2 separate regions of the Homo sapiens genome follow, and region 1 is linked to region 2. Evidence: fine-mapped expression QTL. A gene starts in region 2. The other region holds a variant in brackets. All regions are shown on one strand. Distances are from middle to middle. Region 1 overlaps C17orf67 (chromosome 17 open reading frame 67). Region 2 holds the start of C17orf67 (chromosome 17 open reading frame 67).

Region 1 (5,375 bases), 36 kb before region 2:
CAGGGCAGGATGGGAGGACAGGCAGGGAGAAGAAATCAACGGCCACACCCATGCCTCTCTGTAGGGAAGACCAGTCAGACTGACCCACCCAGTGGGCAAAATAAAGAAGTCTGACAATACTAAGTGCTGAGCGGGTGGATTTCCATGAAAACATGGGACAACAACTTCAGAAAACATCTGATTGCCTGCAATCTAGAAATTTCACTCCTACTTTATACCCTAGCGCAGTGGACGTCAAACTTTATCAGATATCAGAGTCACCTGATATCTGATATTACAACACAGATTGCTGGGCCTATCTTACAGTTTCTGACTCAGTGGGTCTTGGGTGGGACTTGAGAAGTTGCATTTCTAACAAGTTCCTAGCTAATAGTTATATTGCTAGTTGCTCTGAGAACAAAAGAAACTCTTATATCAGGAAAGGCATATAAAAATGTTTATAGCAGCAATAAATTTGTCATAGCAAAACACTGGAAACATGCCAAATAGCCACTTACAGGAGAATGAATCAATAAATTATGTTAGGGTTATGCCATGGACTATTATACAGCAGAGAACATAAATTATACTGTAGCTATATACAACAACATAGATGGGTCTTAGAAATAGCATACTGAGTGAAAAGTCCAAGTAACTACATTTATAGTGTGACACTATTTTTATAAAGTTCAAATATGTGTAACTAAATCATGTAATATATTACTTATGGCTATATGCATTTCTGATAAAATCATCTTTTTTAAAAGACAAGGGATAAGCAGAAGAAAGCTAGGGTTGCTATGCTAATATCAAACAAAAAGACTTTAAAATATAAAAATGTTACTAGAAATAGAGAAGCATTTTGTAAAAATAGTCTGGCAGTTCCTTACAATATTAAACCTAGAATTACCATTCGTACTCCTGGCTAGCAACTGTACTTGTAGGTATATACCCAAGAGAAACAAAAATGGATGTCCACACAAAAACTTGTATACAGATGTTCACACCAACATCATTTGTCACAGCCAAAAACCAGAAGCAACCCAAATGTCCACCAATAAATGAGTGGATAAATAAAATATGCTACTTCCATATAATGGAATATTATTTGGCAATTAAAATGAATGAAGCAGTGATCCCTGCTACAACATGGATGAACCTTGAGAACATTATGCTAAGTGACAGAAGCCACTTAGGACACTTATGTCACAAAGGACCACACGGTGTATGATTCTGTTCATATGAAAGGTGGCCAGCCCCATACATTAATCTGTCCACAACAGAAAGCAGCTCCTTGCCCTGACCAGTCCTGCCCCTTACTGTGGCCAGCATCTCCATCTACTCAGGAACCCGCTCCAGAACACCAACTGTCATTGCCTCACTCACCCTCAAACTCAACATAAGACTGAGCATCGGGACGTTGAGGCTATCTCCGGAATAGTTCTCAGATGCCCTCCCTCGTCTCTGCCACTTCCCTAGGTCAGGTCTTCACCATTGTCCACCAAGGCTGCCGCAGACTCCTCACCCCTCTCTCTGTCCCACCCCTGCGTGTTGCATTCCTCCCACCCCATGCCTCCTCCCTCCCCCATCCCTGCTCCACTCTGACAGAGTGACCCAAAAGGGGTCAAAGGTGGCCCACCAGGGCCACCTTCCTCCTCGAAGCCTTCACCAGTGCTGTCTACCTGCAAGGAGTCAGCATCTGCCTCTACCCACGGGTTTTGTCTGTGGCTCTGGATAATGTACTTGCAAGCCAGCAGATGAGTGCAGCTTTGGGTAGGATTCCCCTCCTTCCCCCACTCCTCCCAACAGCAGGGAGTGGCCCTGCCCTCCCACCTTGGTCTACAATGGTCATTGACAGCCTTTGTTAATCTCTATGCTTCTCAAAAACGCAATTTCTCCCTGAAATGGTTGCCTGAAGAGACTTTAATGAAGGGAACATTCATAGCCATGTGAGTAGGGTTAAGGGAACTATCAAAGAATATTCTAGCACCCAGGGACTAGCAATAGAGGGAAGTCATGACCATGTCTAAGTTTGCAGGGCCAAGGGTGGAGAACCCTTAGAGGAGCCATTAGGCCTGGGGCCAGGTGGGTGGGGCTGCTGTGGTCTTGGGGGCACAGCACAACCTTTGCAAGGCAAGGAGGGAACAGGGAACAAACAGCCCATCCTCTCCCTCCTCTTCCCCTCAATATCCTGCAGGGCCCAATCAGAAGCCAGC[T/C]GGCCAGGGAACCAAGGGATTCAGTCTGCAGGAGTCAGTCTCCTTGAGCACAGAGTGGGGCACAGCAGGGTGGAGAACGGACTGGGGTCAGGGCAGAGAAAAACCGCGTCCATACCAGGATGATGAGGAGTGGCAGGTGTGCTACCACCAGAGAAGGGAGCAGACAGCACAAATAACAGAGGGCCATGATAGGGCCTCTCTGCAACCTGCAGCTCATCAGCCTCTGAACACACCCATCCTTTGCATGAAATTTTTGTCTTTGCATCTCCTCTCTCAGTTGGCTCGTGCTCTGCCCTTTATCAACAGGAATGTCACTTCCAGCCTTTAGGGCTGGCCTTCTCCTCCAAATGCGCCTTGGTCTTCCCCGAAGCCAGTTCAGGCTGTGAATTTTCTGTATATGGGTTACTCATGGCATTATGTCCTATAAGTGATGCATAAAACAGAAAAATGATAAAACAACAGGACCTCTCTTAAATAAAAGAATAAAATGTGATTTCTCTTGTCTTAGTCAGTTATAAGCTCTCCTCCTTCCCTCTCCATCTTCTAGTGCAATCTCTGGCCTACAGGTACTGCCTATCATACTGAAGGTGGTTCATCATATCTCTCTTCATGGCACCACATTGCTAGTTAAGCAAGAAGCTTCAGCGCACTCCTCTTCCTTGCCCTCCCACCATCTAAGCAGCCTAACTCCTGTGAATGCTCCTGAATCCCTTCTACCCAGCCCGACTGCCTCTGCCCAGCTTAGGCCCCAGCCCTGGGGCTAGACCCCTGCCACAACCTCTGCAGGCTCTTACTACCCCTTGTCCTACCTTCTTCTTCTTGTGGGGTTTTTTTTATTGTTTTATTTTGTTTTCTTAATAGGCATTATTGTTTACAGCAGTTTTAGGTTCACAGCAAAATTGAGCAGAAATATAGCATTCCCATATATCCCCTGTCTTCACACAGGCACAGCCTCCCCCACTACCAACATCCCCCACCAGCATGGGATATTTTTTACAGTTGATGCACCTGCATTGACACAGCACCATCACCAGTCCATAGTTGATATTAGGGCTCACTCTTGGTATTACACAAATGCATGGCAGTCGGGCATCATGGCTCACATCTGTAATCCCAGCAATTTGGGAGGCTGAGGTGGGCAGATCACTCAAGCTCTGGAGTTCGAGACCAGCCTGGGCGACGTGGTGAAACTCTGTCTCTACCAAAAATACAAAAAAAAAAATAGCTAGATGTGGTGGTGCATGCCTGTAGTCCCAGCTACTCAGGAAGCTGAGGTGAGAGGATCTCTTGAGCCCAGGAGGTAGAGGTTGCAGTGAGCTGAGATCGCACCATGGCACTCCAGCCCTCGGAGACAGTACGAGCCTTTGTCTCAAAAAAGATAAATAAACACAAATAAAAATAAAAGCATGGCACCAACATCTCCTTCTGATGAGGGCCTCAGGAAGTTTCCACTCATGGCAGAAGGTGAAGGGGAGCTGATATACACAGATCACATGGTGAGACAGGAGGCAAGAAAGAGAGAAGGTGCCAGGCTCTTTGCAGAAATCCGTTCTCATGGGAACTAAGAGTGAAAACTCCCTCATTACCGCTATTCATGAGGGATCCACCTCCATGACCCAAACACCTCCCATAAGGCCACACCTCCAACACTGGGGATCAAATTTCAACATGAGACTTGATGGGGCCGAACAAACCACACACAAACCCTAGCACTACCATTGCAATATCACACGGAACAGTTTCACTGCCCTAAAAATCTGCTTTGCTCTGCCTGCTCATCTGCCTAACCCCTGGCAACCACTGATCTTTATACTGTCTCTATAGTTTTGCCTTTCCCAGAATGTCATACAGTTAGAATCACAGAACATGTAATTGAATTTTCAGATTGGTTTCTTTTCTTTAGTAATATGCATTTAAGTTTAACTCCATGTCTTTCCGTGGCTTGATAGCTCATTTTGTTTTAGGGTTGAATAATATTCCATTGTCTGCATGTATCATAGTTTATTTATTCATTCACCTGGACATCTTGGTTGCTTCCAAATTGGAGTAATTATGAATAAAATTGCTATAAACATCTGGGGGCAGGTTTTGTGTGGATGTAAGTTTTCAACTCCTTTGGGTAAACACCAGGGAGTGTGATTATTGAATCGTATGTTAAGAGTACGTCTGGTTTTGTAAGAAACTGCCAAACTGTCTTCCAAAGTAGCTGCACCATTTTGCATTTCCACCAGCAATGAGTGAGAGTTCTGTTGCTTCACATCCTCACCAGCATTTGGTGTTGTCCATGTTCCAGATTTTGGCCATTCTAATAGGTGTATAGTGGCATCTCGTTGTTTTAAGTTGCATTTCCCTAATGATGTACGATGTTTCACATGCTTACTTGCCATCTGTATATCTTCTTCAGTAGATGTCTATTCAAGTCTTTTGTCAGAATGGGTTTTTAAAATATAAAGAACAAAAATAGCTTTACTGGTTTTTATTTTTATCACAACAGTGATACATATTACTTTCTTAAAGTCATGAAAAAAAAAAAGAAAGTTATAAAGAAGAGGTTGAAAAATCCCTCTTGATTTTTCTGTATCCTGTTGCAAACTAATTTTTTTTTTTTTTTTTTTTTTTTTGAGACGGAGTCTCGCTCTGTCGCCCAGGCTGGAGTGCAGTGGCGCCATCGCGGCTCACTGCAAGCTCCGCTTCCCGGGTTCACGCCATTCTCCTGCCTTAGCCTCCCGAGTAGCTGGAACTACAGGCACCCACCATCACACCCGGCTAATTTTTTGAATTTTTAGTAGAGACGGGGTTTCACCGTGTTAGCCAGGATGGTCTCAATCTCCTGACCTCGTGATCCACCCGCCTCAGCCTCCCAAAGTGCTGGGATTACAGGCGTGAGCCACTGCGCCCGGCAGCAAAGTGATATATTTTTTTAATTTACCCACGTTGCTTCTTCACTTAAAATGTCTGTATGCCTCCCACTGGTCTCAGGAGAAAGTTCTGATTCCTTAATATGGCTAAGGTCTTTCCATGACCCAGCTACACCCATCTCCTGAGCCTCTTCTCTCACCATCAATACACTTGAGCTTTGTTCTCCATCTTTCCCTGAACGGGCCATGCTTGCTGTTCTTTCTAAGGCTTCCAAAGCACCTGTTGTTTGCTCTGCCTAGAACACCCCTGTACCTTCTTATT
Region 2 (5,375 bases):
CTGCTAGTGACCAGAACCCTCCTCAGGTCTCCCAGTAGCCACAATACCACAAAAAGCCTCAAGAGTGACCTCCCCAAGTCTGTTCCCATTAGGGGACTTGAGTTGTGCAGAATCCGTATAAGACAGCCTCCACCAAACACGTGTCTATGCAGGTCCACGTGCCATGTACATACGTACGACTGATGAAGATCCCCTCCTTGACCAAGCTCTAGCCAGGCTTCCCTGAGCCCCCTTTTCAACTAGGCCTCCACCTTGGCCTATGAAATCTGCAGACTTCAGCAAAAAGGATCGGGTCCATCCTTCCCCCTATATCAAAACGCTTAAACACACAGTTTCTTTTTCTTTCTTTTTTTTTGAGACGGAGTTTCGCTCTGTCGCCCCGGCTGGAATACATTGGTGCGATCTCAGCTCACTGCAACCTCCGCCTCCTGGGTTAAGCAATTCTCTGCCTCAAGCCTCCCAAGTAGCTGGGACTACAGGCACTCACCACGATGCCCAGCTAATTTTTTGTATTTTTAGTAGAGACGGGGTTTCACCATCTTGACCAGGCTGATCTTGAATTCCTGACCCCGTGATGCACCTGCCTCGGCCTCCCAAAGTGTTGGGGTTACAGGCGTGAGCCACAGCGCCCGGCCTAAACACATAGTTTTTAACTGCTCAAAGCTGCATCCATAGGATGACCCCAGACCCCCTAAAGTATCTTCCTGGGAAAGCTGCCAAAAGAACTCACTGTTGGCTATTGCCAACACCTTACAAGCAGCCCCTGATGTCCCTTTCTTAAAGAGTTAACAACAACAACAAAAAACTAAACAATTGTGAATCCTTCCTCTGTCTCTCTGGGATGTAATGTCTCCTACACATCAGGAGTATCCTTCTCAAGAACCTGAAAGCCATTCCTCCAACATGCAATCACCAGGAAGCAAAGGGCCTATCTCCCAGTTACTGTGGGAGGATAGGACCCTGACTCCCATAACAGCCATCTAACAGGCACTGTCGCCTAACCTTACTTACACTGACCCACCCTTCACAAGTTTCACTTTCCTGACTACTGAGTTCCTGCTCATCCCCTTCACATTCCCTCCTCCTCCCTCTTAAACACCTAGTCACTTCTGCACAAAGTTCAGTTCCGTTCACGAGGTACCTTCTTCCCTATTACAATAGTATATTATTAAAATCTGCTTTACCACTTTTACTAGTGTCTAGCTTTATCTTCTACAGTTAATACAAATATACGCACATACACATGCATATATATGCACACATAATAATATATACATACACACATACACGTATATATACATCTATATGTGTATTCTTAATGAATGTTATGTCTTCTCTAATCGTTTGGAAGATATTATCAAGTATTTCTTTGCAGTTTTCCTATGATCTCTGCGTTTCTTTTCTGTTCCTTTGGTCCCTTGCTTCGGTGTGTGTTTTCTTTCCATCTTTTATGCTAGAGGAAGTCCGCAAGCAACAAGTGGTCCTCGGCTCCCACTCCTATGTATGTATGTAGTAGGAAGGAAGCCGCTGAGTGCAGCTGTGCGCGCCGGGGCGGTGCCTGTGCCTCTCTGGATTCCGTGTTTCTTCGGGGGTGCTGAGCAGCGGTGCTTCCGCGTCCGCGTTCTCCGGGTAGCTGATGTGCTGCAGGCTGCAGCCCGCGTGGTCGCGGCTCAGGTCCGTGTTGGGCTGGTAGGACTCCAGCGGGGAGCGAGCATTCCTCCGGAACCTGGGGCTGGACGACAGCAGCAGGAGGCGTGCTCCCATCTCCGGTAGTCCCCGGCTCCCGCTGCTCCCCTTTCTCCCCGGCCTCGGGCGCTGGCGGGCGCGGGCGAGGGGGTAGCGCAGGGGAGGCCCGCCCGCCACGGCAGGGGGCGGAAACCGCGGCCGGGCTCGGGGTCAGCGGCGACGAGCGGGCGGCTGCCCCGCTCGCCCTCGGCCTCCGCGCCCGCCCGCCGCTCCGCAGCGGAGGAGCCCTCAGGTTTGCGTTACTGCGGCCGCCACACCTACCTCAGCCCGCCGCGGCCAGGTCGGGCGGTGCCGCGCAGGCCGCCTCCCCCCCTCGCTTCCCAGTCGGCTTACGCATCCCCGGCGGCGGCGGCGCCGGCATCGGCTAGAGGTTCGGCTCAAGTCGGGGGCACTCGTGTCTGCGCCGAGCGGCGGGCGTGAGCGCGGCCCCTGGGCCCCGCGCGGCGCGGTGCTGCGAGGAGGATCCTCGTGGCCTTGCCCCGCCGGCGGCTTTCCAGAATTTTCTACGATTACGAAGTTTTGGCATTCAACCCTCCATCCTCTCAAACGCCCCACTGTTACTCCGCCCCCTTCCCCTAGGCCCCGCCCCCAGCCGCAGTGCCCTGCCTCTTCCATCCGTCTCCAGCCTCCTCCACGGCCCCGCCCCCTCAGGCCGGTCCGTCTCCCCTCCCACCTCACACCTCCGCCCCGCCCGTCAGCCCTGGCTCCGCCCAGCCACGGGGCTCGCCGCCACAGGCCCCGCCTCCAGCTCGCGGCCCCGCGCGCCGGATCGGCGTGCGTGCGGCTGGAGCCTTAAGCGTTTCCCCCGCCCGGCTTCATCCCTGCTGGCGGCCCAGCGTCGTTCTCCTCCTGCGCGAGGCGGCCAAGGCCTGCTGGCCCGGAGCCGCGCCTCCACCCGCGCGAGGTAGGGCTTCGAGGACCGGCGCGGCGCAGGTCTCCGGAGGCCTCCCGAGAGGGGCTAGGGTCGCCGGGCCGCGCGTGGGAGCGGGTGGGGCCCGGGAGGAGACGGCGCCCCGGAGGGGAGTGCGAGGCCTGGGCCGACGGTTACGGGCGCCGACCGGCGTTGCCTGGCCTGAACGCCCGGCCTTTCGGTGGAGGGCAGCTTGCCCCTGTATGTTGCGCCCTTCCGTGGGTCAGACCGGCGGCAAGGTGAGGCGGCGGCGGCAGCAGCAGCCGCCTTGGGCTCCTGGACGCGCTCCCGAGGTGGGGCGGGTTGGGGAGTGGGGATTGGAGCGTGATGGCTGGACGTCGCCTTCTCGGCGCGGCAGGTCCCGGGAGACGGGGGGACGAGGCGCAGTCCCGCCCTCGGGAGAGCGGAGCCACCTTCACTGAGGGCGCCCGGTTTGGCCCCGGAAAGGCAGGAAGGGGGCGGGGAAGGGATGGCGAGCTCGGGGTGCACCGCCTGTTTCTTTTCTGGTTAGGTATCGTCCTTGGAGAAGATGGAAGCGGAGAGGCGGCCGGCGCCGGGCTCGCCCTCCGAGGGCCTGTTTGCGGACGGGCACCTGATCTTGTGGACGCTGTGCTCGGTCCTGCTGCCGGTGTTCATCACCTTCTGGTGTAGCCTCCAGCGGTCGCGCCGGCAGCTGCACCGCAGGGACATCTTCCGCAAGAGCAAGCACGGGTGGCGCGACACGGACCTGTTCAGCCAGCCCACCTACTGCTGCGTGTGCGCGCAGCACATTCTGCAGGGCGCCTTCTGCGACTGCTGCGGGCTCCGCGTGGACGAGGGCTGCCTCAGGAAGGCCGACAAGCGCTTCCAGTGCAAGGAGATTATGCTCAAGAATGACACCAAGGTCCTGGACGCCATGCCCCACCACTGGATCCGGGGCAACGTGCCCCTGTGCAGTTACTGTATGGTTTGCAAGCAGCAGTGTGGCTGTCAACCCAAGCTTTGCGATTACAGGTATGGTCTTCGTGGACACTCACTGTCCCAGAATGCGCCGTGGGAATCAGGATTTCATAGAGTGGTGTAGAGGCCTGCTTTAATCTCTGCTGATGACCTAAACTCATTTTGAGGAAACAAGCTAATAAATAAACATCCCTGAGTTTGTGCAAGCGTGGCAGCTTTGCAGTAGTCATTTGCTGAGACGATGCATCCAGCCTCCACTCCTCAGCCAGCCTGCCCTTTTGGGTAATAAAACTTGGCTCCTAACGTTAATACAGAGGTTTCTAAGTGGTGCCTGCTTCATGGCCACTGTATATTTTAGCTTTTGTTCCTATCGATTATCTCCTTATTTTAAATAAGGAAAAATGAAATATGGACAAATTAACTTTTCCCTTCAGCCGCAAAACTGATGGGTCACAGGTTTTGTACTATGAATGTGCAGTGAAAACAAGTGTCATTCCAAGGCAGCACTTTTATGTCTTTTGCTAATATAGCTGTTGGTACCATAGCGAAATATACTCAAAAAGAACACTGAAAGGAATATTCCTTTTGACGCTTGGTCTTTCAGGACATGTAGAATCTTAGATAAGTGACCTTGATTAAGCCAAGAATATTTTAATGTCTTTTATATACACACTGGACAACACATTTTTGTCCTTAAATATTGTTTGAAAATAGGTGAAGATGTCCTTTGCTGATGTTGGAAATTGGTAAAGGAGAATGCTGCTTTGCAAATGATCTATTCTAACTCAGTTCACAGTTGAGAAAATTAAAGCCCGTTAGGTCCACTCTGGTAAAATAGGACTGGCCTCCAGGATTTCCAGCTCTGGACTAACACTTAGCCTCCTTTGAGCCTTAAGTCTGGACATCTTCATTGTAATGGGTTTTATTTCTGACAAGTAGAAAGGCGCATAAACATGCTTAAGAAATGAAATAGGCAGTAAATAGGAAGCTGCTTTTTAATTTTTTTAATTTTTTTTGCAGAAATTCTTTCATTAGCATGAACGCTATTATAATGTCAATACCTGTTTTTAAGTCTTATTTTAAATAATTTTACACATTATCAAAGAGGCTTAAGAATAAATGTTCAAAATAATGTATTCTAGACAACTACAAAGTTTTGTAACCATGCATTTTTATTTGGTATCTTTAAAAATTAAATGCTGTCCTTCTGGCATCAGTGAGAGCCAAGTTAGCAGGGACTTTAAATAAATTTCATAATGAATTGAGTATTGTTCTATTTCCTTCCCTTCTCTGGTGTAGCCTCCAGCAGTCTGTGTCTGTGCAGAATTATATTAAAAATGGTTTCCATAAATAACCGTATTTCAAATACTCTTGAACACATAATCATGCTTCTGATCCTCCACCCAAATGATCTTTCTAAAAATGCAAATCTGATCAAGTCCCTGCTCTGCTTAAAATCCTTTAAATTGCTCCCCATCGGGTAAGCTGACTGTTTTACAGTGTAAACCCCTAAGTGCTTTTTCACAGGGTACATAAGGTCCTAGTACTTTCTGGCCTCTGTCCTTTTAGTTTTATCTACCACCACCTGCATTAAACTTTATGCACCAGCAACACTAAGCTTCTTGTAATTTCCTTAAAACGTCAGGCATTTTCTGACATTTCTGCCCCTTTGCTCAAAGCTTTCCTCTCAGTATTCTTCTGGCTAGCTTCTAGGCACCCTTAAAGACCCATCCCATGTCCTTGTCCTTTCCTTCAGGAACTCTTACCTGATCTACTCAGC

Evidence for each region. PIP is the estimated chance that this variant, and not a neighbour inherited with it, causes the effect.
Region 1: its variant is the best candidate, but not a certain one, in a credible set for the expression of C17orf67 in lymphoblastoid cells (GTEx, PIP 0.53).

The regions. Positions count from the first base shown.
Region 1 is chr17:56,795,268-56,800,642 of GRCh38, forward strand. The region is part of intron 6 of C17orf67 (chromosome 17 open reading frame 67); the gene reads right to left. Among named protein-coding and RNA genes, the nearest start is that of C17orf67, 36 kb to the right of the region's middle. The variant T/C (reference allele first, on the strand shown) is at 2,196.
Region 2 is chr17:56,831,611-56,836,985 of GRCh38, forward strand. C17orf67 (chromosome 17 open reading frame 67) reads right to left here and starts at 2,310. Exons shown (of 8, transcript NM_001085430.4): 1 at 2,008-2,310; 2 at 1,288-1,732. It overlaps DGKE (diacylglycerol kinase epsilon), which reads left to right and starts at 2,541. Exons shown (of 12, transcript NM_003647.3): 1 at 2,541-2,650; 2 at 3,168-3,649. The coding sequence starts at 3,186. LOC124904036 (a long non-coding RNA gene) reads right to left here. Exons shown (of 3, transcript XR_007065857.1): 3 at 4,750-5,375. RefSeq lists silencers at 1,538-1,832, 1,806-2,875 and enhancers at 2,200-2,797, 3,266-3,665, 3,397-3,994.